Linked DNA regions of Homo sapiens. The protein of the gene in region 1 interacts with the protein of each later gene in a biochemical or structural test. Each region holds a gene or a part of one and is shown in the gene's direction. Other genes may lie near its edges.

What was found.
Region 2: the proteins of PPFIA4 (region 1) and ERC2 form a complex in vitro, tested with the Homo sapiens proteins (one study listed by BioGRID).

The regions. Positions count from the first base shown.
Region 1 is NC_000001.11:203,042,061-203,053,520, forward strand, and holds part of PPFIA4 (liprin-alpha-4), read left to right. Parts: intron 1-1,336; coding exon 1,337-1,438; intron 1,439-1,870; coding exon 1,871-2,035; intron 2,036-2,318; coding exon 2,319-2,393; intron 2,394-2,635; coding exon 2,636-2,725; intron 2,726-3,307; coding exon 3,308-3,499; intron 3,500-3,780; coding exon 3,781-3,927; intron 3,928-4,187; coding exon 4,188-4,322; intron 4,323-6,166; coding exon 6,167-6,250; intron 6,251-6,522; coding exon 6,523-6,654; intron 6,655-6,857; coding exon 6,858-6,920; intron 6,921-7,615; coding exon 7,616-7,707; intron 7,708-9,708; coding exon 9,709-9,817; intron 9,818-11,460. UniProt on the Homo sapiens protein: May regulate the disassembly of focal adhesions. May localize receptor-like tyrosine phosphatases type 2A at specific sites on the plasma membrane, possibly regulating their interaction with the extracellular environment and their association with substrates.
Region 2 is NC_000003.12:56,428,467-56,439,926, reverse strand, and holds part of ERC2 (ERC protein 2), read left to right. Parts: intron 1-3,634; exon of another isoform or gene 3,635-3,770; intron 3,771-3,875; exon of another isoform or gene 3,876-3,957; intron 3,958-4,779; 5' UTR 4,780-4,919; coding exon 4,920-5,576; intron 5,577-11,460. UniProt on the Homo sapiens protein: Thought to be involved in the organization of the cytomatrix at the nerve terminals active zone (CAZ) which regulates neurotransmitter release. Seems to act together with BSN. May recruit liprin-alpha proteins to the CAZ.

The DNA.
Region 1 (11,460 bases):
AGAGGGGATTGGGAGTTCTTCCTTTGGTCATGAATCCTTGGTGTGTGAGGGAGGCTGCAGGTTAGGACAGGGATGAGGCCTGTTGCATCGCTCTTAGACCTTGGACATCCACAGAGTTGGGGCCACTCATTTGAAAACCTCCCTGGAAGGAGGTGATGTTTAGCTAAACAGGATATGATGAGCCTGGAATGTGGGAGCAGTCTCTCACCCCTGTATGCTTGTCCTGATGGGGGAGGGTGGGCTGGCAAGGTCTCTGAAGTTATCTGGGCCTGACAGTGTGGAAATGGGCCCCTCTAGAAGTGATACTTGGTACATGGATATTTGGTAAAGCCAGGGCAACTGCCTTGGCATCAGGAGCTGGGATGTAGCCCTTGCTTGGTTGAGCAGGGCTCCTAGAAAGCCTGACTGGGCAGGTCTGCATACTCTCTTGCTCCTATGTAGGTAGGTCCTTTGATCTGCTTATTTCACCCGCTACTTGCAGTTTGCAAAGCCTTGGGATGGGGCTGGAAGAGCTCCCTGGGGCACTCATGCAGGCATTATCTTCAAAAGCTCTTTCTCTTCCCTGTTTCTTTTATTTATTTATTTTTATTTTTCGAGACGGAGGCTCACCCTGTCGCCCAGGCTGGAGTGCAGTGGTGCCACCTCAGCTCACTGCAACCTCCGCCTCCCGGGTTCAAGTGATTCTCCTGCCTCAGCCTCTGGAGTAGCTGGAATTACCCAGGTGTGCGCCACCACGTCTGACTAATTTTTGTATTTTTAGTCGAGACAGGGTTTCACCATGTTGGCCAGACTGGTCTCAAACTCCTGACCTCAGGTGATCTGCCCGGCTCAGCCTCCCAAAGTGTTGGGATTACAGGCGTGAGTCACTGTGCTGGGCCTTCTCTTCCCTCTTTCATATCCATCAGTTTCTGTTTGGACCTTAATCCACCAAACCAGAAGCAGAATTCCCCTCCATCAGTTTCTAAAGGAAAATGTCATTGAATTCCTGGAGAAATGGAAATGCCAGGTGGGAGGGAGGATGTAATCTGGTCATATTGGTGGCTGGATGGGGAAGGGTCTGCAGAGCAGACTCAGTGACTTTCTCACTCTTGTGTACAACTCTGTTCCCTTGGATTCTAACACATGGAATGCATGGAGGACCCAGAGATGTGGACCCCTCTGGAGAAGCACATGCTAGCTACAGGTTTACTGACCTGCAGTGTGGATGGATTGGGATTTTGTGGGGGAGGTGGTGGAAGTAAGGGATGGGTGAGAGGATCCCACCACTGACTTGCATGTGCAGGACACTGCTTTGGGGGTGAATCCTGAAGCACTGAGGGGCCTTGGGGGTTTTCAGGAATTTGCCACCTTAACCCGGGAGCTGAGCATGTGTCGGGAGCAGCTTCTAGAGCGGGAGGAAGAGATATCAGAACTGAAAGCAGAACGGAATAACACACGGGTAAGTGGGGATGACCTTGTGTCGCGCGCGCGCACGTGTGTGTGTGTGTGTATGGGGGTGTGTTGTGAACACCTTGACCAAGAGAGCAGGCAAGAGTGGGGCCAGGCACAGTCCTAGCTCAAGCCCCATCCTTCCCTCTTCCTGTCTCCCATCCTGGGGTGAGAGTTACATCGTTTAACCACCAGTGCTGGGCTCTCCACCTGTAGTTGCTGGTTCACAGAAAGCTCAGGGTCCTGGGGAGAGGCCGGGGCAGTCACCTTGAGTAGTATCAGTTGGGGCGGGAGCTCTGTGCCCATTTGGAAGTATTTCAGTGTTTTCACAGTGGGGTGGCTGTAACTCATGTCTGCTCGGGGATCACATGGACCCTGCTTGTAGCCCCTGGGGCACATGCTTACAGCCCTCCCTCTCACCCTCCCCTGCTCTCCCTGCCAGCTGCTTCTGGAACATCTGGAGTGCCTGGTGTCCCGCCATGAACGGTCACTGCGGATGACTGTGGTGAAGCGCCAGGCCCAGTCACCTTCGGGGGTCTCCAGTGAGGTGGAGGTGCTGAAGGCCCTCAAGTCACTGTTTGAGCACCACAAGGCCCTGGATGAGAAGGTGCCCACCTGCCCGCCAGCCCCCACATCCAGCCAGGCTGCCCTGGAGCCTCCCATGTATCCCTTCTCTGAGATTTCCACATCCGGTATTTAGGGAGCACTGGCTCCCTCCAAACATTGTCTTAACTTCAAGGTCCTCCTGTTAGGCTCCCTCCTGCAAATGTGCTGCTTAGTAGGCCCTTCACTGTCCTCATGCTCAGTGGTGGTAGACCAAGCCCAGTCTCTTCCAGCCTGACTCAAGTGGGGTCCCCCTTTCTTCCTCCATCTCCCCTTACCTCGAGCAGGTGCGAGAGCGGCTCCGGGCAGCGCTGGAGCGAGTCACCACCTTGGAGGAGCAGCTGGCAGGTGCCCACCAGCAGGTAATCTGCCTGCTCACCCTCAGTCTGCAGCTCCTGGAAGTCCAGGCTGGTTCACCCCTGTGCCCTACTCTGTTTCTTGTCAGATTTCTCCCTGCCATGGCTGGAAGCTGCTAGGCAAGGCTAGGCTGAGCACCTCTTTCTAGGAGACATTTTTTAACTAAGACAGGGGCTTTGGAAGGGTCTGGAATGTATGGGAGGTTCTCTTCTCTTTGACTCATTGCCCTGGGGCTTGTGCCCTACAGGTGTCTGCCCTGCAGCAGGGGGCAGGGGTGCGGGATGGAGCGGCAGAAGAGGAGGGGACTGTGGAGCTGGGGCCGAAACGCCTGTGGAAGGTAGGTCATGGAGAGCTGTGTAGCAGGGGTCATGTGTTCCCCAAGGTGGGAGGTTGGAGGCCCGGCTCTGCCTTAGTTCAGTAGACTAACTGCTTGAATTAAATTTGAGGCTTTCTCTGATATTCCCCCTTCTCTTTTCTTCTTCTCCCTACCCCATCTGCAATGAAATCTGTAGATTTTTATTTTAGTGCCCAACACATGCTGGGCACATCATACGCTTGTCTGCTTGAATTGTTAGGCACCATCTGCCTCATGTGGCAGCATCAGGCAAGATTCCTTCTCTGTCTGAACCTTTGTTCCCCCAGTCACGCCCCTTTCTGGGTTACAAGAGGCTGGCATAGCAGATAAAACTAGAAACTTGTTTTCAAGAGAGACAAAGGATAGCAAGGTGTTTGGTCATTGTCAGGAGTGACCTCCTGGGGCCCAGAGGGAGGCAGTTGTAGCCAGAGGAGTGCTGTGATGTTGGGGGCAGAGCCTTGACCTGCTCTGGGTGTGCTGTTCCTCCTTCCACCCCTGGGATAGGGGAGTGGGGTGGGTGGGATGCTGCTGTGACTCACAGAGCTACTGTCCCTATCCCTGGAGGAGGATACGGGCCGGGTAGAGGAGCTGCAGGAGCTCCTGGAGAAGCAGAACTTTGAGTTGAGCCAGGCCCGGGAGCGACTGGTCACCCTAACAACAACCGTGACTGAACTCGAGGAGGACCTGGGCACGGCCCGCCGGGACCTCATCAAGTCGGAGGAGCTGAGCAGCAAGCATCAGCGGGACCTCCGGGAGGTGCGTGAGGGCGCAGGCCTGCTCTGTGACCTCATTGTGGAGCGTGTGGAGGGAGAGCCAGGCAAAGGCTCTGGGGCGTGAGACTGAACACCTGCCTCCTTGCCTGGCTCCATTGTTGGGGGGCGGTCATGGAAGGGGTGGGCCAAAGCCAGAAACTGACAGGAGAGTGTAGCTCATGCCCCTTAATGGGTTCCAATCAGCCAGGTGTGGGTGGGGAGGTGTAGACAGGATGGGGGCAAGGAAAGGCTGGTTACCGTCCTTCTTGTCCCCTCTTCTCCCAGGCTCTGGCCCAGAAGGAGGACATGGAAGAGCGGATTACTACACTGGAGAAGCGCTACCTGGCTGCTCAGCGTGAGGCAACATCCATCCATGACCTCAATGACAAGCTGGAGAATGAGCTGGCCAACAAGGAGTCCCTGCACCGCCAGGTACCTCCTCAGGGTGGGGTGGGGATGGGCATTGTACTTAGCCCTGGAGGTGTCCTCGTGAACCTACTGGTGATGGCTGAGGAGCCCCTGGGGTCCTGCAGGTCACCCTTTGAAAGGGGAAGTCAGGCGTCTCGGGCAGCCAACAACCAAGATTGTCCCTTGCTGCTTCTGACCTGTCATCTGCTCTCTGCTGAGGCTGGGGTGGGGGTGGGGGCTTCAGTGCTCCCTTTTGAATCACTTCACCACCCCCACATTGCTAGTGTGAGGAGAAGGCCCGACACCTGCAGGAGCTGCTGGAGGTGGCAGAGCAGAAGCTGCAGCAGACGATGCGCAAGGCAGAGACGCTGCCAGAGGTGGAGGCTGAGCTGGCCCAGAGAATTGCAGCCCTCACCAAGGCAAGTGGGCCAGGGGCCTGGGATCTGCCTCTGTCCCCCATGTTCTGAGCTCTCAGGGAGCCAGGCAGGGAAGGGAGCGCGTGGGAGGCGCACTGGGCCAGGAGCCAGAAAACTGCTTCCCGCCGTGTGATTCCAGGGAGCACACTGCCTTGTGCCTGTCAGTTGGAAGAGTAATCCCTGTCCTCATCACCCTGCAGGGATGTGACAGTCTCATAAGAAGGGGTGTAAAAGTACTTGAAGGAGAAGAAGCTATGTTGATGCAAAGTGTTTTTCTTTTTCTTTTTTTTTTTTTTTAATCCTCTACACCGTCGTGGTGAACACTTTCTTTCACTTGGGGCTGGAGCAGAAAGATTAGGACTTTCATCTCTGGAAAGGTGAAACCTTAGAAGAGAAATGGTATATATATCCCTGAAGGGCAAAGGGGTGAGAGTTAGGTTGAGTACATCTTTGATTGCCAAATTGAAGCTTCTAGATCTAGGGACTGCTCCTGGTTGTTTGAAGGCTGCAGTTTTAGGATGAAGAAAAAAGAATACAATTTTATTTAATGGATACTTTATGAAGTAGTAATTCCTGAGAGGTGTGCTGGCTGAAAACATAATAGGTTCTGGAAGAGCCAGGTAAATGCCTGGATTTAGACATGCAGGGGTTAATCAAAATAATTTAGGAGCGTTTTCAGCTGGTCAGCCTCATATGGGATCTTCGAACCCGTGGCGAGAAGAAAACCGGTGTTTAGGAAGCACCAGGCACAGTGCTCGGAAGGGAGAGGCTGGCCGGCCAGTGTGCAGCTCAGCTGCTTCGAGGACGGAACCTGCAGCCTGGCTGTGTCCCAGCAGACCCAGGACCAAGACTGCTTCTGCCACTGACTGTCTCTGCGACCTGGGAAAAGTCATCCCCTCCCTTAACTGGGCCTCAGTGTCCTTATCACTATGTTGGAGTTAGACGGGATGGTCTCGGAGGTCTTTCCAGCCTCGAGGAATGAAGGATTGGGTTGAAATCACAGCAGAGGATGTTATGTGTGGGCTGCTGAGCAGTCAGCCTTAGTGTCTCCCAAAGCTGACATGAAGGCACGGGCTGAAATGATTAATACAGTCAAGTGAGTCATCGCAGGAGGAGTTTAAGGAAGGATTTCCTGACTATAAGAGATGTGGCTTTCTAGAATATCTTGCCAGCAGAGACAGTAGGGTCTCCATCTCTGGACATCCATGACTGGAAAGGGAGACTACCCCACCTGGGCTGGTTTAACAGCAGAGCCGTAACCATGCGGGGCTAACATTTGTTGAGTGCTTACTATGTTCTCAGTGTTCGCCTTGGATTATTTCATTTAGTCTTTGTGATGGTCCAGTGGGCCTGGGTGCTATTATTACCCACATTTTACAGTTGTGGAAACGAAGGCACATAGAGGTTTGGTAACTTGTCTAAGGTCACACAGGTGGTAAGAGGGAGCCAGGATTTGAACCCAGGCGGTGTGGCATGAGCCCATGCTCTTCAGTGTGGTTCTATCCATCTGGAGGCGTAGAGGTTTATGGTAGCTCATGCTTTCAAGTGGAGCTTTTTCTGGAAGCATGGGGATTATTTACAGTCTCTTGAACTGCTAGCTTCAGGATGTTTTAAGGCTAGGCCTGAGCGAGGAGGAGGCAGGGGAGACCTGGCAGGTATTGAAGTACCTGGGAAGAAAGGCAATGGGGATGGTGGTCCTGCTCCAAGATGATAAGTGGAGGCTGAGCGTCACTGGTACTGGGGGCCATGATCCCCAGGGCCACCCTGGCACCAGGGTGCAGGGGATGCGGGGCCTGAGCAGGAAGAACAGAGATCTGCGGGCTGCACCGACCCATCCCTGCCCCTAGGCTGAAGAACGGCATGGCAACATTGAGGAGCACCTGCGGCAGCTGGAGGGACAGCTGGAGGAGAAGAACCAGGAGCTGGCACGGGTGAGGGCACCAGGCCGGGCCCTCAGGCCCCCTCCTTCCCGCAGGACAGGCTCCCAGGGCGGTCTGTGGAAGGGGCACGGAGGAAGGGCCTGGCCAGGGACACAGCCACAGAGAGTGGGAGGAGGCTGGCAGGTGAAGGGGGAGGTGGTCAGGAGACTGGAGAGAGTGGCTCCCAGAGGATGAGAAGAGGACAGGGGAGGGAGTCAAACCCCAGCAGGAGAGGGTGGTCCTCCCTGGGAGGGCGGCCTGGTGCGAGGCAGACGGCTGTGCAGGTGCGCCAGCGGGAAAAGATGAATGAGGACCACAACAAGCGGCTGTCGGACACAGTGGACCGGCTGCTCAGCGAGTCCAACGAGCGTCTGCAGCTCCACCTGAAGGAGCGCATGGCTGCCCTGGAGGAGAAGGTGCCCAGAGGGGCGGGGTTGGGATGCGAGAGGTTAGTGCTGGGTGTGGGGCGGGGGGAGGCGGGACTGTGATGGGCGCAGGCGGGGTCTCAATGGGGTGGGTGGCCAGCCTGGAGAGGTGGGGCTGAGACTGCACACCCAGAGGCTCAGGTCTGGAATGGGAGAGGAAGGCAGGGGCCTGGCTCACAGCTGCTCTCCCCCAGAACACGTTGATCCAGGAGTTGGAGAGCTCCCAGCGGCAGATTGAGGAGCAGCACCACCACAAGGTACCCGGCTGCGGCCAGCCCCGCCCAGCCTGGGAGGGCCGGGTTGCAGGGAGGAAAGGACACCCTGCTTTTAACGCTGCTGCTCTGATACCTGGCAGTGTTAGTGCATATGTTAGTGCACTACATACATTATTCCGTGATTTCTCACTAGAGCCCATCATGGTAGGTGCATTACTGCCCACAGGGAAAGAAGAAACTGAGGCCAGAAGCATAGGGCAGAGGTGGACAGCAGAGAGGCAGGGCCCAGTGAGGGGCTCCACCCCAGGATTTGGAGGGAGCTTCAAACCCTGGTGCAGCCAGAGCCTGGTGATTCTGGGAGGATTTGCCTCCGTCCTGGCCTCGGCAATGTCTGTGAGGTCTGAGGGGGTGCTGGGGCCCTCTGCTGCCCAGCCTCATCTGCTGTGCATCTGTGCAGTAGTGAGGGGTCGGCAGGCCTAGGCTAGCAGAGCCCTCCCCAGACAGACCCCCTCCTGGCCCTGCCCCTGCCCATCCTTCCACTCACTCTCTGGTTGGACCTCTTCTCTTTTGGTGTCATCTGTGGGCCTGGCCTGGGGCCCCTGGCTTTGGACTTTGCAGTACATTCTTCAGCTTCTCCCCAACTCTGCTGTCCTCTTTGTCCCTCTCTGACTCCCACCCTCCCTCTCTGCCCCTCCCTGGCCCCCACTCCCGCCCCCACCCCGGGTCTGCTGGCACAGGGCCGCCTGTCTGAAGAGATTGAGAAGCTGCGCCAAGAGGTGGACCAGCTGAAGGGCCGAGGGGGGCCGTTTGTGGATGGCGTCCACTCCAGGTACTGCAGCGCCAGAGGCTGGGCATGCCAGGACGGGGTCCTGATGGACCGTGAGGAAGGAGACTTCCTTCCAACAAAAGACTGCCCAGGACCTCAGGGTCCTCCTCCTGTTCAGGGTGGGACACTGAGGCTCAGATAACTTGGTCAGAGTCACCCAGCTTACTTGGGCAGTTTGGGAGGGAACACCTGTCCTCCGAGGGCTGCTGAGAGGCGAGTCATCAGACAGCCAGTGCTCTGTCCCCGCTGTGGTAGGACATAGGCCATGATTTCTGCTTCCTTGACAGAGGGCACACCCCTGAGAGAGGCCTGCACATCCCTTGCTTAGCCATGTCCTACAGGGCCCACTGGTAGGGAGAGCCATTCACTCCAGTTCTCTTGAGAGTCAAGGACCACCTGAGTTCAGGCAGCGGGCAGAAAGGCAGCAGGAGAGATTGGAATGAAGCATCAGAAACTTCCTTACTGGAAGTTGAGACGCCATGGCAATCCTATGGACTTGGCATCCCTTTTCTTGAAACCATTGTGAGAGATGGAGCTTATCTCCTAATGCTTGAATTAGGCCCATGTTTAGGGAACCTCGGGATTTCCCCCACATTTTGTGGAGCGATGGGTATTGAATTCAGACCTCGAGCCTGTCCTCAGTACCCAGGCCAGAGAGGTGGGGTGAAGACAGGGGAGACTGAAATGGATGGTGCCACTCAAGGTTCATGGCTCTTGGCTGTTTTCTCTCCAAACCAAAGTCTCTTAGATCAGAACCCTTGCCGTTCCCTTTGGTCATGTGCTTGCTGTATCAGGGAAATGGAGATGAACTACCATGAAGAAAGGTTAATGGAAATATCCATATAGATATGTGTGGAGGGGCAGTGGTTGAAATAGGGAAGGGGATGTTGAGCTTGAAGAAGAGAAGCCCACGGGTGTCTGGGGTGGTAGAGACTTAAGTGCCATCTCCACGCTCGCCAGGAATTATTGTATATGGGTATGAAGGGAAGCAGAGGATGGAGACAGGCAACAGTAGTTGGCATTTCTCCTACTTCTCCCATCCTGACCAGAAGAGACAACCCCTCAATTAGTAAAATACGGCCCACAGTACACCAAGCCATTTGCCACTGCTTGGCTTTTTTTTTTTTTCTTAATGGTTGGGAATGCTTGGGTTCGACTATAGAATCATTGGATTCATCGTGGAATTGGGGCTGAGTTGCAGGGAGAAAAGGGGAACATGCAGGAACTTCCCTCTCCCTCCAGTGACCTCGTATGGTCTGTTGTAGGCTCACTGTGTCCCTTCACTCTGGACTCCCTCAAGGGTTCCAAGTAGGAAGGCACAGGGAGGAAGTATCACTAGGGGAGGCTTCCAGATATTCCAGGGGATTGTTGCTTGGGTCCTAAAATCTCAGGGTTGGAATAGACTCTTGGGGCAAAGTATTTTCTCTGGCTTGTGTTTCTGACAGTGTTAGGGCCTCCTAAAGCTTCCTAGGCATAGGGGTATGCCTGGCTTGAATTTTAACCAGGGACTCAGTCCAGATTATGGGGAGACCCGAGGAAAAGTGCTGGGTAGAAGACCAAAAAACAAAGACCCTCAGAGTGAAAAGGGCCTCTAGACATCATCCCTTCCAACATCTCCCAGTGCCTGGAGCCCTCCTGCGCCACGTGTGTCAGATGGCCGGAGAGCCTCTGCTCGAATACCTCTTTGATGGGGAGCTCAACTTTTTAAAAGCCACCAGTTGCATCGTAAGCCAACTCTTGCCATTAGAAGATCCTTCTTATGCCAGACGGAAAACCGCTCTCTGGAACTTTCTCCCCTGGCTCATTCTGACCCCTGGAGCACCAGGGCATACGTCTGCTCTCTTGCTTACACGGCAGCCCTTCAGACATTTGTGACAGCTCTGTGTCCTGCTAAGATGTCTCTTCTCTGAGCTGAAGATCCCTTGACTCTTTGGGCCCACTGGGTGTGAGCTGGGGGTCTCAGTCCTCAGGGCCTGTCTTTTCTCTCCCCCATCACCGCTCAAGGTCGCACATGGGCAGTGCAGCAGACGTGCGGTTCTCCCTGGGCACAACCACACACGCACCCCCAGGCGTGCATCGCCGCTACTCGGCATTGAGGGAAGAGTCTGCCAAGGTGAGGGGGTGGAGGGATCTCCTCAGGGAGTTTGGGGTCAATTCGGCCGCGTGCCTGGCTCCAGTTACGCAGACGGCTGGTGTGTGGGGCAAATCCTTCCCCTTCCCTCCCGTGTCAATGACAGCTGCAGCCCTGGGGTTGAGGCCATCGTCAGCTGCAACAGCTGTGCCCCCCCCCCCGCTTGCCTTGGCCTCCTGGTGGGCAAGAGGTGGGGGCTGGCAGGCAGCCAACAGTCCCTGAGGCCCCACTGAAGTGTGTGTGCGTGTGCCTGGGCGTGCAGGCGTGTGTATCTGGTGGTCGGGCGTGGGGGGTGGGGGAGCTTCACGGGTAAGATGGAATTGGCAGACTTTCTGGAACAAAAGCTGTGGTTCATGGCGGAGACGAGGGAGGGATGACAGGTTAACTGGCCCTTGGGATGGCACCTGGAGTTTTCCGAGAAGCAGCTGTGAGTTCATGCTGTCTGAGTCTGCCTAGGGAGATTAGGGGAGAATGAGGAAAGATATGGGGCAGAAAAATGCCGAGTTTGATCTTTTGGGAAAGTGCAATTATTCGTCATGCTCTGTCCTGAATCCAGGTCCTCTAAATATCATTTAGAGCACTGGGGTATTAGAAGATATAGATGGAGAAAGAGGGAACTCCTAGTCTCAGGGGAAGATTCACTCTGCCCTTAAGAAATCCTCAGTCCGATGGGGGAGTCACAGTCTGAAGGTGCCTCTTTTTCTTTCTCCCCCGACTTCTTTGCTCTTTCTGTTTATAAGAATATAGCAGCTATCCAGGAGCTGAGAGGCTGCAGGAGCCTGAAGGGGAGCTAGGGGGCTTGGGTCATAGAGGATGGGTGTTAGAGTACCTTTCTGTCCCTGGCTCCCTTCCTTCCTTCTCTACTCTTCTGTTCTCCACCCTCCCCTCTTCTGGGCCTTTGTCCGCTGGATAGGTTTGTAGGATGATTTCAGAGAAGCTGCCGCCTCTCAGGGTTGACCAGACTGTCCTGTGATGATCTGAAACTCTGCAGACTGTCTATTCAGGCCTGCTTGGCCTTTCTGTTCTCTGGGTGTAGTCAGCCTTTGAGTTTGTATGGATGGAAACTGATAGCATTTATGTAGTGCTTGCTTTGTGCCAGGCACAGTGCTAAGGGCTTTACATGTATTTTCCTCATTTGATCCTCACAGCTATCTATGAGGTAAGTACTTTACCATCCCTATTTTACAGATGAAGAAACTGAGGCACAGAGAGGTTAAAAAATGTTCCTATGGTTGCACAACTAGTGTTTGGTGGAGATGAGATTCAAACCAAAGCCGTCTCTCTCTGGATTCTCTTCTTAACAGTTAGAGCAGTATTTCTTAGACTGTAATGTGCAAACAAATCACCCAGGGGTCAGCCGGGCACGGTGGCTCACGCTTGTAATCCCAGCACTTTGGGAGGCTGAGGTGGGTGGATTGCTTGAGCTCAGAAGTTCACTACCAGCCTGGGCAACATGGTGAAACCCCGTCTCTACTAAAATACAAAAAATCAGCCGGGCGTGGTGGCGTGCGCTTGTAATCCTAGCTACTCGGGAGTCTGAGGCAGGAGAATTGCTTGAACCTGGGAGGCGGAGGTTGCAGTGAGCCGAGATCACGCCACTGCCCTCCAGCCTGGGTGACAGAGGG
Region 2 (11,460 bases), on another chromosome or scaffold:
CAATAATTCCTGGGATAGAAAAATTTCAAAATAAAAACAGCAAGGTATTTACAAATGCCAATAAGAGTTTTATACATAGAATTCTGGAATATGCAGCCATGTGTATAATCTTATATGCATTCATTAGGAAATGTGATTAAAGAGAAATGAACATTCAATGCAAAAGGGCAAAAAAAAACCATAAAGGAAGTAGAAATTTTATTAAAGATAAAGAGATATCAATGAAATGGAAAATAAGATGCAGTAAAATATATTAATAAAACCAAAAGCTATATCATTTAAAAAATTTTAAAGAAAAGTTATACAAAGCAATGCCAATAAGACTGGAAAATCTACACGGAATAGACTGTTTGTGAAGGGACGTTTTAATGATAATTGACACAAAATAGGTAGCAAACCCAAATAGACAAGTAAACATAGTGAAAAAGTGAAAAGATAATAAACAACTAGGCCCATTCTGTGTTTTTTGCTTTTTTAAAGAGACTGGGTCTCTCCCTCTGTCACCCAGGCTGGAGTGCAGTGGTGCAGTTATAGCTCACTGTAGCCTCGAACTCCTGGGCTCAAGTGATCCTCCTGCTTCACTCTCCCCAAGTAGCTGGGACTGCAGGCACATGACACCACACTGGGCTAATTTAAAAATTTTTTTTAGAGACAGAGTCTTGCTATATTGCCCAGACTGGTCTTGAACTTCTGTCCTCAAGCAATCCTCCTGCCTCAGCCTCCTCAGTAGCTAGCATTACAGCAGGAGTCAACATTCCCTGCCAAGCCCATTCAGTTTTATGTGTGTGTTCTACAAAATATTTCAGGAATAGGGAAGACTGGTATTATGCTAACTGTTCCAGAACATATGAAAAATGGAAAGCTTCTCAATCTATCTATGATACTAGCATACATCTGTTATTAAACCTAGAAAAGGAGAACCCAAGAAATCTATGGGCCAGTGGCAACATATATTACTTTTTAAATAAGGAAACAATATTTCAAACATGATAATACATCTTTTCATGTTGTATGTTATATGTGTGTGTGTTTCCAAAGGGAACAAACTAACTTTGTTTGTTGGTTATTGGGATTCTCCAAAGCCTTGGCCAGGTAGGCAGGTAAATTCACTGAGGATTAAATCTGTGTGCGTGTAAATTTTATGACATTCCGGGACCTCAAGCCTAGCCACAGACCTCAGAAATGTGTATCTCTAGATACAAAGGGAGCAGACAGAGGAAGACAAGTTAGATTTCATCACTTTTTCTAGGAAGACATCTCTATAAGTGGTGGCCCAGTTAGAACCCAGACATCTAGATTGTAAGCACAGAAAAGATACATTCATTTAACTGTTGGAACCATAGAAAGAAAATCATTTTTTTAATGAAAAAAGTATATATCATTATTATGTTACCAAAACACCAGAGGTTCAGTCCAGGTCCTGCTGCTTGCTGCACAGAAGGCCAATCACTGAGACAAGTATTGCCAGAGAAGAAGGTTTTAATCAGGTGCTGCAGCTGAGGAGATGGGAGATCAGTTTCAAATCCATCTCCTTGACCAACTAACGTAAGGGTTTATATAGCAGGGAAGAAATGTAATCATGAGTGGAAAAACAGGAATTAGGGAGGGATAAGGAAGAGGAGTTGGTTAAAAGGAAGCAGATAGGGCAAGGCAATTATGACAGATGAAGGGTCTGACATCTCATTGCCCAAATGCAGTAATCTGGCGAGTTTGAGCTCCTTGACACTATCTGGGAGGCCTGATGGTTGGTTTCCTTAGAAAGGAACTCAGATAAGACAAATGCAACTTTCTCAAGTTTTAAAACTGGGAGGTCAATTTCTATGTTTTTTCAAAGAAACCACTGACATCAGCTCTATGGGACAATTGAGTCAGTTTCAATTGTAGAAAATTTAGAGTATGCAAATAAAAAGAAGAAAATGAAAACCTCTTGGAATTCCACCACTGGTAACACTTTGATGTGTGTCATTCCAGCCTTCTTTGCTGGTGAAAGGGTGTATGTGTATTTGTGTGTTTTACAACAGTGTGAGTAAATCACAAAATTGTTTTGTCGTCTGCTCCCCCTGCCACCAGTATGTCATGAACATCTTTCTGTCTTATTAAATATTCATGTAACTGCCTGTTCCACTATTCCATTATCTGTCTCTCTTATCATTTATGTCACCGAATTCTTATGTTAGAACTATTGATCCCCTCTTTTTTACACTACAGATTATTCATGTAAAAATCTTAGATACAAAATGGTTTTTGTGTATTTCCAAGAAAAACAAAATTAAGCCCTGAGCAACATAAACATTTGAAATGAAGTTCTTTAGTTAGAAACAGGTGTATAATTTTTTAAGACCTCTTGAGGGAAAGGGGAAACCTTTATAGAAAACATTTTTTCATACTGTATGTGTCACTATCTGTGACAGAAATCTCATCTAGAATTGAATGTAGCAAAAAGGAAATTTATAGACAAATGCATCAGTTACCCATTGATCCTGTAATGTGGCAAAACAGTCCACCACAAAACATCAGTGACATACTAAGAAGCATTTATCAAGTGCATAAGTGTGGTGTTTAGCTGATCTCAGCTGGGCTCGCTCATGCCCCGCTGGGCAGTGGCTGGTTGGCTAGGCAGTTCTGCTGACTTTGGCTGGGCTTGCTCACACATCTTGGGGCGGCTTGCCTGTTGGCTAGGACAACTTGGTTCTATTTTATATTTCTCATCTTGCATCAGGCTAGATTGGGAATATTCTAATTACTATGGTAGAGGAAAATGAGCAAGAGAGTAAACACATGTGTTGCTTAAGGCGTCTGCTTACTTCACATTTGTTATCACCTTACTGGACAAATAAAGTCACATGACTGAACCTAGCATCACATTGGGAAAACACTGCCAAGACATATATAAAAAAAGGAGTAAAGGATTGAGACCTTTAATGCAATCAGTCACCTGGCATATGTAACTAAAATGGCCAGGGAACAGATGTATAGATGATAGATGATGGTAACTTCTATGATTCCTGGATCTGGAGTATGAAGTGATGTCACCTGGTTTGGTTTCACACTCTTTGAAGTTTAGCTGTGGTTCCCTTTGTATTGTCTCCACCCTCAGGGAGGCCCTTTCCACATTGAAGTACTCACAGCTCTATCTTGAAAGTAAGGAATTCCAGCTGAAGAAGAGCTTATCTTTCCCAGCTGTTCCAACTAGAGTCCTAGTATGGAGTCTTGTTGGACCAATGTGGGTCACATGCCCATCACTAAACTAGCTACCATGTCTGGAGGATACAATATGGTGGTTGGCCAGGCGTGGGTCATGTTCTCACCCCTTGCACCATCCAGGATGGTGGAGTGAAGGGAGTCAACCTTATCTAAACCCAGTGAACTGTGAGTAGGGGGTTGGGAACAATTTCTCTAAGGAAAATAGTGACAGTATAATCAGAAAGTGTGTATTTGGGAGAGGGGGAAGGGATGAATGATAGGCAGGTGAAAATAAAAGATACCCATGTATACTGCTATTAATGTACTTATCTCATTGAGACACTTACCTTCAAAATCTATTTATTGACTATTTGGTACTAGGCACAAAACTAGGTGTTTTATAAACCTCATCTTACTATTTCTTACAATACTATGAGTTAGATGGTACTACCTGCATTTTGTTGATTGCAGAGTGGAAGCTCATAACAAGTTAAATAATTTGTCTAAGGTTACTCAGCTGGTTAGTATTAGCATGGACATTTGAACCTGTTTGCCTTTCTCAAATCTGTTCTTTTATTGTTGTAAAGCTGAAGGAAAAGAAAATACAGTAAAGACTTTCTAAGAGGAAGAACAGGAGGCCATAATGTGCCCCATTAAGGCCATATGGGTGCTAAAATTGAAGGGATACTCACAATGCTGTAGCCCCAGCTACATAAAATCTTCACTAGTATACTTCAGTAACCGTGATGGGAACTTCTTCTCCTTTGCCATTTCTGTACAGACATGAAGTGGTTAATATGAATATTAAGGTCAACCAAAATGGGAAATAATTCTCAAGAGGCCAGCCTGAAAGATGTGTGTGAAAGGGAAAAGAGACAGGACTGTTGTTTTCTCTGGTAATATCATTGAGGATCTGGCTATGTGTTTAGGCATCCCATTGGTTGAGCTACCTCTTTTTCTTCTATCTCCAGGATAGCCAGTAGGTTTGAATTCATGTGTTAATACCAGTTGATTGGTGGTAAGCCATCTAGAGTGTTGTGTTGAGAAGAATTCTGAACCTAGTGGAAAAGAAGACTGTGATGGATTAGTGATGTCTGTAATGAGTACAGGAGGGGAAGGTAACAACATGAATGCCAAATATTTGACATCCCAGGAATCAGCAGCTTCTCAGAGTCACTTTCAAGTCACATGCATATAGGGGTTATGCCCCAAAGGAGGGGCCTTTTTATAGCTAAGGTCTCCATGATGGGCAATTCCATGGGGAATTTTCTAGAGGTTCTAACTCTAACCTTAGCACAAACCAATATAGAGAGCTTCATTTTCTTAAAGAATAGAGCTTATTTTTCACTTTGAGAATTTTTATCTTGCTTAGGGGCAGGGTGGGGGGAATTTGTAAAACTTTCACCTGTAGTAGTAAAGTTCTAGAGTTGCTTTTCTTTATAAATCAACATTATGGGTGTGGCTCTTTCTATCTGTCTATTATTAATCACCTATCTACATAGGTACATCTATCATTATCTTTATATATTTAAAAATACAATGCAGTTAGAGTTCTAAAGAAATTTGTTTTTAATTATTCTTTTTTTCACTTTGTAGATCTCTGAGTGGAGTTATTTTCTGGTACGGACTGTGAAAAGAATGCGGTGAAAATTCTGGACAATCGTGGAAATATTAGCTCAAACCCCAACTTAATATAGCATTTCTTCTCTTCAGTAACACCTCATAATACAAGAAAAATGTATGGAAGTGCAAGAACAATCACCAATCTGGAAGGTAGCCCTTCCAGATCCCCTCGTTTGCCAAGGTCTCCTCGTTTGGGCCACCGAAGAACAAGTAGTGGGGGAGGTGGAGGAACAGGCAAGACTCTGTCTATGGAGAATATCCAGTCCCTCAATGCAGCCTATGCTACGTCTGGACCCATGTATCTGAGTGATCATGAAGGGGTGGCTTCAACAACCTACCCAAAGGGCACTATGACTCTGGGAAGGGCTACAAATCGAGCTGTATATGGAGGCCGTGTCACAGCCATGGGGAGTAGTCCCAATATTGCTTCTGCTGGACTTTCCCACACAGATGTCCTTTCATACACAGATCAACATGGTGGGCTGACTGGCTCATCCCATCATCACCACCACCAGGTCCCCTCCATGTTGAGGCAGGTAAGAGACAGCACAATGTTAGATCTTCAGGCCCAGCTGAAAGAACTGCAGAGAGAGAATGACCTCCTCCGGAAAGAGCTAGACATCAAGGACAGCAAATTGGGATCTTCCATGAACAGTATTAAGACTTTCTGGAGTCCTGAGCTTAAGAAGGAGAGAGTCTTGAGGAAAGAAGAGGCAGCGCGGATGTCTGTCCTCAAGGAGCAGATGAGGGTTTCCCATGAAGAAAATCAGGTAGGTCATGACTCATCTCAGTATTTTTCAGCCTTGGCTTCTCACTGAGTAGTTGATGCTTTGCAGATGGTACCACGACCTGTGCAGAAGAAAGTTTGGCATCATCAAGAAGGTTATGGCTTAGTATGTGTTTGACTTAGACACTATGAGAGAGCATAGGAAATATACCATTACAGCTTGTAATTTCCTTATTTTCCGATAACCTTTTCACATGGTTGCAGATGGGGAGAGGGGTGGGGTGGGGAGGATCACTTGTCATTGCCTAACTTTTGTACTTGGTTAATTTTGTTTTCTTTTTCAGCAGTTGCAACAGCTGTTCAGATGTACCTCCTTCTGAATAGAAGAAGAAAATGTTAATTTCTGTAAGAATAAAGACTTTAAGAGCAACATTTAGTGGGCCACATTTGACTGGTGAATTGATTTTTATTTTGAAGCACCAGCACCATTATTTCCCACTAGAATGAGTGAAGTTGTTCTCTAAGTAGCAGATTGAACAATATGAAATGGAATTGGATCAAATGGGTTTGTTATGTTAGAGATACACAATAAATTTTTAACTTGGTGTTTTTGCCTTCATCCATTCAGCATTAATTAACTATCTACTATATGTAAGTCACCTTCATACTCTTCTTTGATCCATCCTTCATGCCACAGGAAAAACAGGTTCCTGGTGTCTACCTGCAGTTATGCTATTTTCCTGCTTTAAAGCCCTCAGTGATTACTCATTGCCTCCAGAATAAAGTCTACCTTCTTGACTGAGCCCATAGCACTTCTACTAGAAGGCCTGGGCCAACATTTCCAGCCTTATCTTGTGCTGCCTCCCTCCACATCTGTGCTTTCTGTACCACTGCCTGGTAATTCCTGCACACACCCAAGGTTTTGCACTGCCATGCCCTTGCTCTTGCTGCTCCCTTCCACTGGTGGCCTTCTCAGCACCTGCTTTTCCTGCCACCTCCCTTTAAATCTCAGCCAGTCTTCATTTCCAAATCCCACCTATTCTGTGAGGCCTGTTTTATATGCTGCTATTTTCTTTTCTTTTCTTTTTTAATGCCTACTTTATTTCCTAAAATGCTGCTATTTTTATAAGCGCTTTGGAATCAGACATACCTGGGTTTAAATTCCAGCTTCATCTCTTGCTCTCTCTCTCTCTCTCTCTCTTTTTTTTTTTTTTTAAGAGACAGGGTCTTGCTGTTGCTCAGGCTGGAGTGTAGTGACGTTGATCATAGCTCACTGCAGCCTTGACTTCCCGGCTCAAATGATCCTCCACACCTCAGCTTTCTGAGTAGCTGGGACTACGGGCACATATCACCACAGCCTGCCGATTAAAATTATTTTTTTTTGTAGAGACAAGGTCTTGCTATTTTGCCAAGGCCGGTCTTGAACTCCTGGCTTCAAGGAGTAATTCCAAAGTTCTAGGATTGCACACCTGGCCCCAGCTTCATCTCTAATTGGTGCTTATAGAAGTGCTAAGAGCTGGGGCATAGGGAATGTGATACCACGTGGCTCAAAAATTCCCAGATATTATTTAACTTTCTGAAGGAAATTGAGATAACTCTAAGTTGACTGAACAAGTGATTTTCCAATAACTGGCTTTGATGTTGGTCTAACGAAGTGCTCTGCCTTTCTTGGAGTCACCTGCTGACCCTCCTAACTGTTTCCCTGGCTACCACTCCTTTGGAGTTTAAGCGCCTGTAGAAGCATTTGTGATCTATAGGAAAATCTGCCTTTTGTTTTCATTCTATGTGTAGAAAACAATCACCTTATCCTTTTGATTATCTAACAGAGCCAAAGCTAGTTTTCAGACGTAGAAATGTGATTTTGTAGTTGGAACCGAAAGGTTTGTTCTTCACTCTAAAATGATGCTCTTCGGTATCATTTCTGCTTCTTTCTGATTTTGCTGGTTCATGAAGTCTTTATGAACCTGTTTGTACAATGCACATTTCCCCCCAGTTTTATACTGGTTTTCTCTTCATTTTAATTTTTTGGAAAATGGTTAAAGCAGTTTAGGAATGGTGCAAGCAGGGACAAAAAGTTTGAAAGCTCTTCTTTAAACTGTTAGCTCCAAAGTGACTTATCTCATGCTTCTTTCATTAAGTTTATCTTTGAGCACAGACCCCAATTATACATGTATATTTATTTATAAATTACAGGATGCATTACACTGCCAGTGTATTATGTGTCTTTTATGACATCCACGAAGAATTAAATGTGGATGAGATAGAGCAAAATAATACATTGAGATACATTTTAGTGACATATAAAACCTTTTCCACTTTTATTAAAAACATTTCGAACCATTTGTCCATTTCATGAGGGTTAGTTCAGTTTAGAATAGGTGATATCCATAATTCCACTTAACCGTCTCAGGTTGCCATAAGCCAGGAGTGTGTGAATGCTTGAGGGCACTTCCATTATCCCTTCCTTGTTCTGGTCTTACTGTGATCACAGGATACCTTGGTATCATAGGTGAAATGTGACTGTGTGACATATGACTCAGTGAAAGCTCTAGTATTAATCTGTATATTTAATACAAGTAAAATGCAATTTTCTCTTTTAGATTAAAAAGTGTAAAATGAGGAAGAAGCGCAGAGATTTTGAAAAGTCAATTTACTTGCAATATGATGTCTTACAAAGTAAAAAATATAAAGATTGACAAAAAACAAGCTATTAAAAAAACTGTCTTCTCTTTTTGGAAGTATATTAGGATCCCTTTTAGAAGTATAGGAGTACCTGTTGGTCAGGATAGGGTAAGTTTTGCTGCAGTAACTAACAAACTTCAAATCTCAGTGGATTAACATATTTGAGATTTATTTCTAATTTGCTTAAAGTAAGAAGCAGGTCAGGTGACTCTGTGGGACGGGTCTTTTCCATGCAGTGACTCAGGATCCAGGATTTCTGCATCCTGATGCATGGCTTCAAACGTTGCCACAGCAGGGGAGGAGAGTGACTGGAGATGGCACATTGGTTCTTTAATTCCTTGAACTGAAAGTGACATAATTGAAGGGAGTGTGAGGTGGAGTCCTCTCTTCTGTCCAGGAAAGGGAGGAGAGACACATATATGGTGGATTACTACCAGTGGGGTTTTTATGTTTTTCCAAAAATGGAGCTAGGTGAAATAAAGTTTGGGGAGCAATCTTCTGCTATTGCTGTTGTTTCTATTATACTGCTAGTGCTACCAGTAGACATTTGTTGAGGGCCAACTGTGTGCTAGGCATTGTGCTTAGTGCTTTGTGTACATTATCTTATTTAGTGATTTCATCAGTCATCTGAGGTAGGTGCTAGAACTTTTCTTATTTTACAGATGAAGCATAAATGTAGAGAGAATAAGCAACTTATCCAAGTTCACACAGTTGGTAAGCAGCATAGCTAGGTCTTAAGGCATTGGTCTATTTCATGCCAAAGTCTAAGATCTTAACTTTATGATCACTACCTCCTTAAAAGATCACTGAGCTGTGATTTAGTATTATAGGAAGATCCTACTTCATACATGCTAGATGAAAAAATGACTAGTTTTGATAAGATGATTAAGAATGTGATTTATTATCATTATTGTTATTATTTTGAGACAGGGTTTCACTCTGTCACCTAGGCTGGAGTGCAGTGGTGCGATACTGGCTCACTGCAGCCTTGACCTCCTGGGCTCAATCGCTCCTCCCACCTCAGCCTCCCTAGTAGCTGGGACTACAGGTGTGTGTCACCATGTCTGGCTAATTTTTGTACTTTTTTGTAGAGATGGAGTCTCCCTATATTGCCCAGGCTGGTCTTGAACTCCTAGGCTCAAGTGATCCTCCCACCTCAGCCTCCCAAAGTGCAGTGTTATCTTGGTACTGTCACTTGTGCTTTTGCCTCATGATGTGTTTTCTTAAAATGGAGGACAGTGGGGCAAGGGATTATGGACATCTAACTCTTTGGAGTGGCATGATTACAGGCGTGAGCCACTGTACCTGGCCAGAATTTGTATTCTTAACTAGGAATTTATTTCTTTTTCCTAGAGATGGTTTTTGTGCTGTTTAGGGTTTTCACCATTTACCATAACTTAATTTCCTTTTAAAGGAAAAATCATGGAAACTTTTTCTATATGGAAGAAAGAAATACAAAAGGGATAAGGGACATTTGATTGTGGTTTCTTATCCACAATAATCAGAGATTGCATCTATCAAGGTAATTCTTTCAGGGGTATTTAGATATTTAGAATTTCACTAACCTAAGTTCTAATGATCTAAAACAATTTGAACTGTTCTGTGTGAAGAGAAATTGGAAGCAGGTCCATTACAGGGTAGAGGTAAGGAGATTGAAATGCTCTTGTATAGGAAGTTCATAGTTTTATAAATATAATGCTAACTAACCCAGCCCTTTCCTTCTTATATGCAGCGTTGTCGAGGGCTCCTGCTCATCAGTTTCTTGGCAGTAGATTTTGAAGTCCTCATGGTTCTGTCTAAGGGAGCTGAACCCAACTCCAGATCTAAGGGAGGATGCTGAACTCCCTCTCTGTGTTACAGGGAGTGCAGGACTATTTGGAACCTTGGAGCTAATGAGTAGGTGGCCGTGACCAAATTTCTTATGTGCAAAGGGTTGACACTCAGTTTCTTGGATGGATATGCCACCCCTTCCTCCATTCCCACTTCTCCTCCACCCAGTTCCCTCCAAGGCCCTACTTCTCAGCCACGCGGCTCTACATGAATATAAATACATTTGCTCTACTACTAAGAGTTGCAGCACTGAAATTTAGAATCATGTGCTTGTTTGTATAAACCAGAGTGCACGGATGCAGTGTTATCTTGGTGTATAAACCAGGGTGCACAGATGCAGTGTTATCTTGGTGCTGTCACTTGTGCTTTTGCTTCATGATATATTTTCTTAAATTGGAGGAGAGTGGGGCAAGGGATTATGGACAGCTGATTCTTTGGAATGCCATGAACCCATAGCCCATGCTCTCAATGTCACACCTGTAGAACAGTTGGGGGAGGGATGAGGAGAAAGTATTGAGAAAGGATGTTCTGCTGCCATACTACACTGTTACGCGAGGTAGCCCCTTATTATTTTTAGTGGCCTGTGCTGTTGGGATAGGTGTTATGGGGGGCAGGGCTGATGAGAGGGTGGATACAACTGTTGGGAAGTAAAGTGAACCTATTTTCTCTAAAAGAATATAGGTTTATCTTTTCTTTATATCTTTATTCTATTGTGTTACGGAGATCAAAGAGAGGAAACATAGGAGTGAATACATCTTTTTAAGGTTTATAAAAACTTCTGTGTTGTAGTTTGGTACATAAGAGTTACTGACTTTTCATATTCCTCGGTATTTTGTGCAATTGTTAACGTTGTATTTCTAACGGATTTCTTCCAAATTAGGTACACATAAAGCAATTTTTAGACATTTTCCTAGGTTGTGCATGGCTAGCCAAGGCTCTGCATGAATATAAATAGCACCACACACTCGGAGATTGTACTAGATCTAATATTTACCCATCTTGCGTGTGCAGAAGTGGGACAAGGTCATTGGGAAACGTAACCCAAGAAGTGTAAGTAAACCTGTCTGGGGAATGTTACAGCTTTTAAACAATGGTTATGTGATCATTTCTATTTTTGGCTTAACACATTAGGAAAGAATCTACTCTAAATCAATATTAATATGAGTTTTTGATCCAGTTTCAACATAGGATTTATTGATTCTTATTTTGAACATGAAATTTGAAAAGATCGAGATGGATCACATTTCTGTGTTTCCTTTATTATTACTGCTTTGTTTTATTTGTATAACTGCAAATAATTCTTTTCTCCCCTCCCTCCCTCCCTCCCTTCCTTCCTTCCTTTCTGCCTTCTTTCTTTTTTTGAGACTGAGTCTCACTCTGCTGCCCAGGCTGGAGTGCAGTGGTGTAATCTCGGT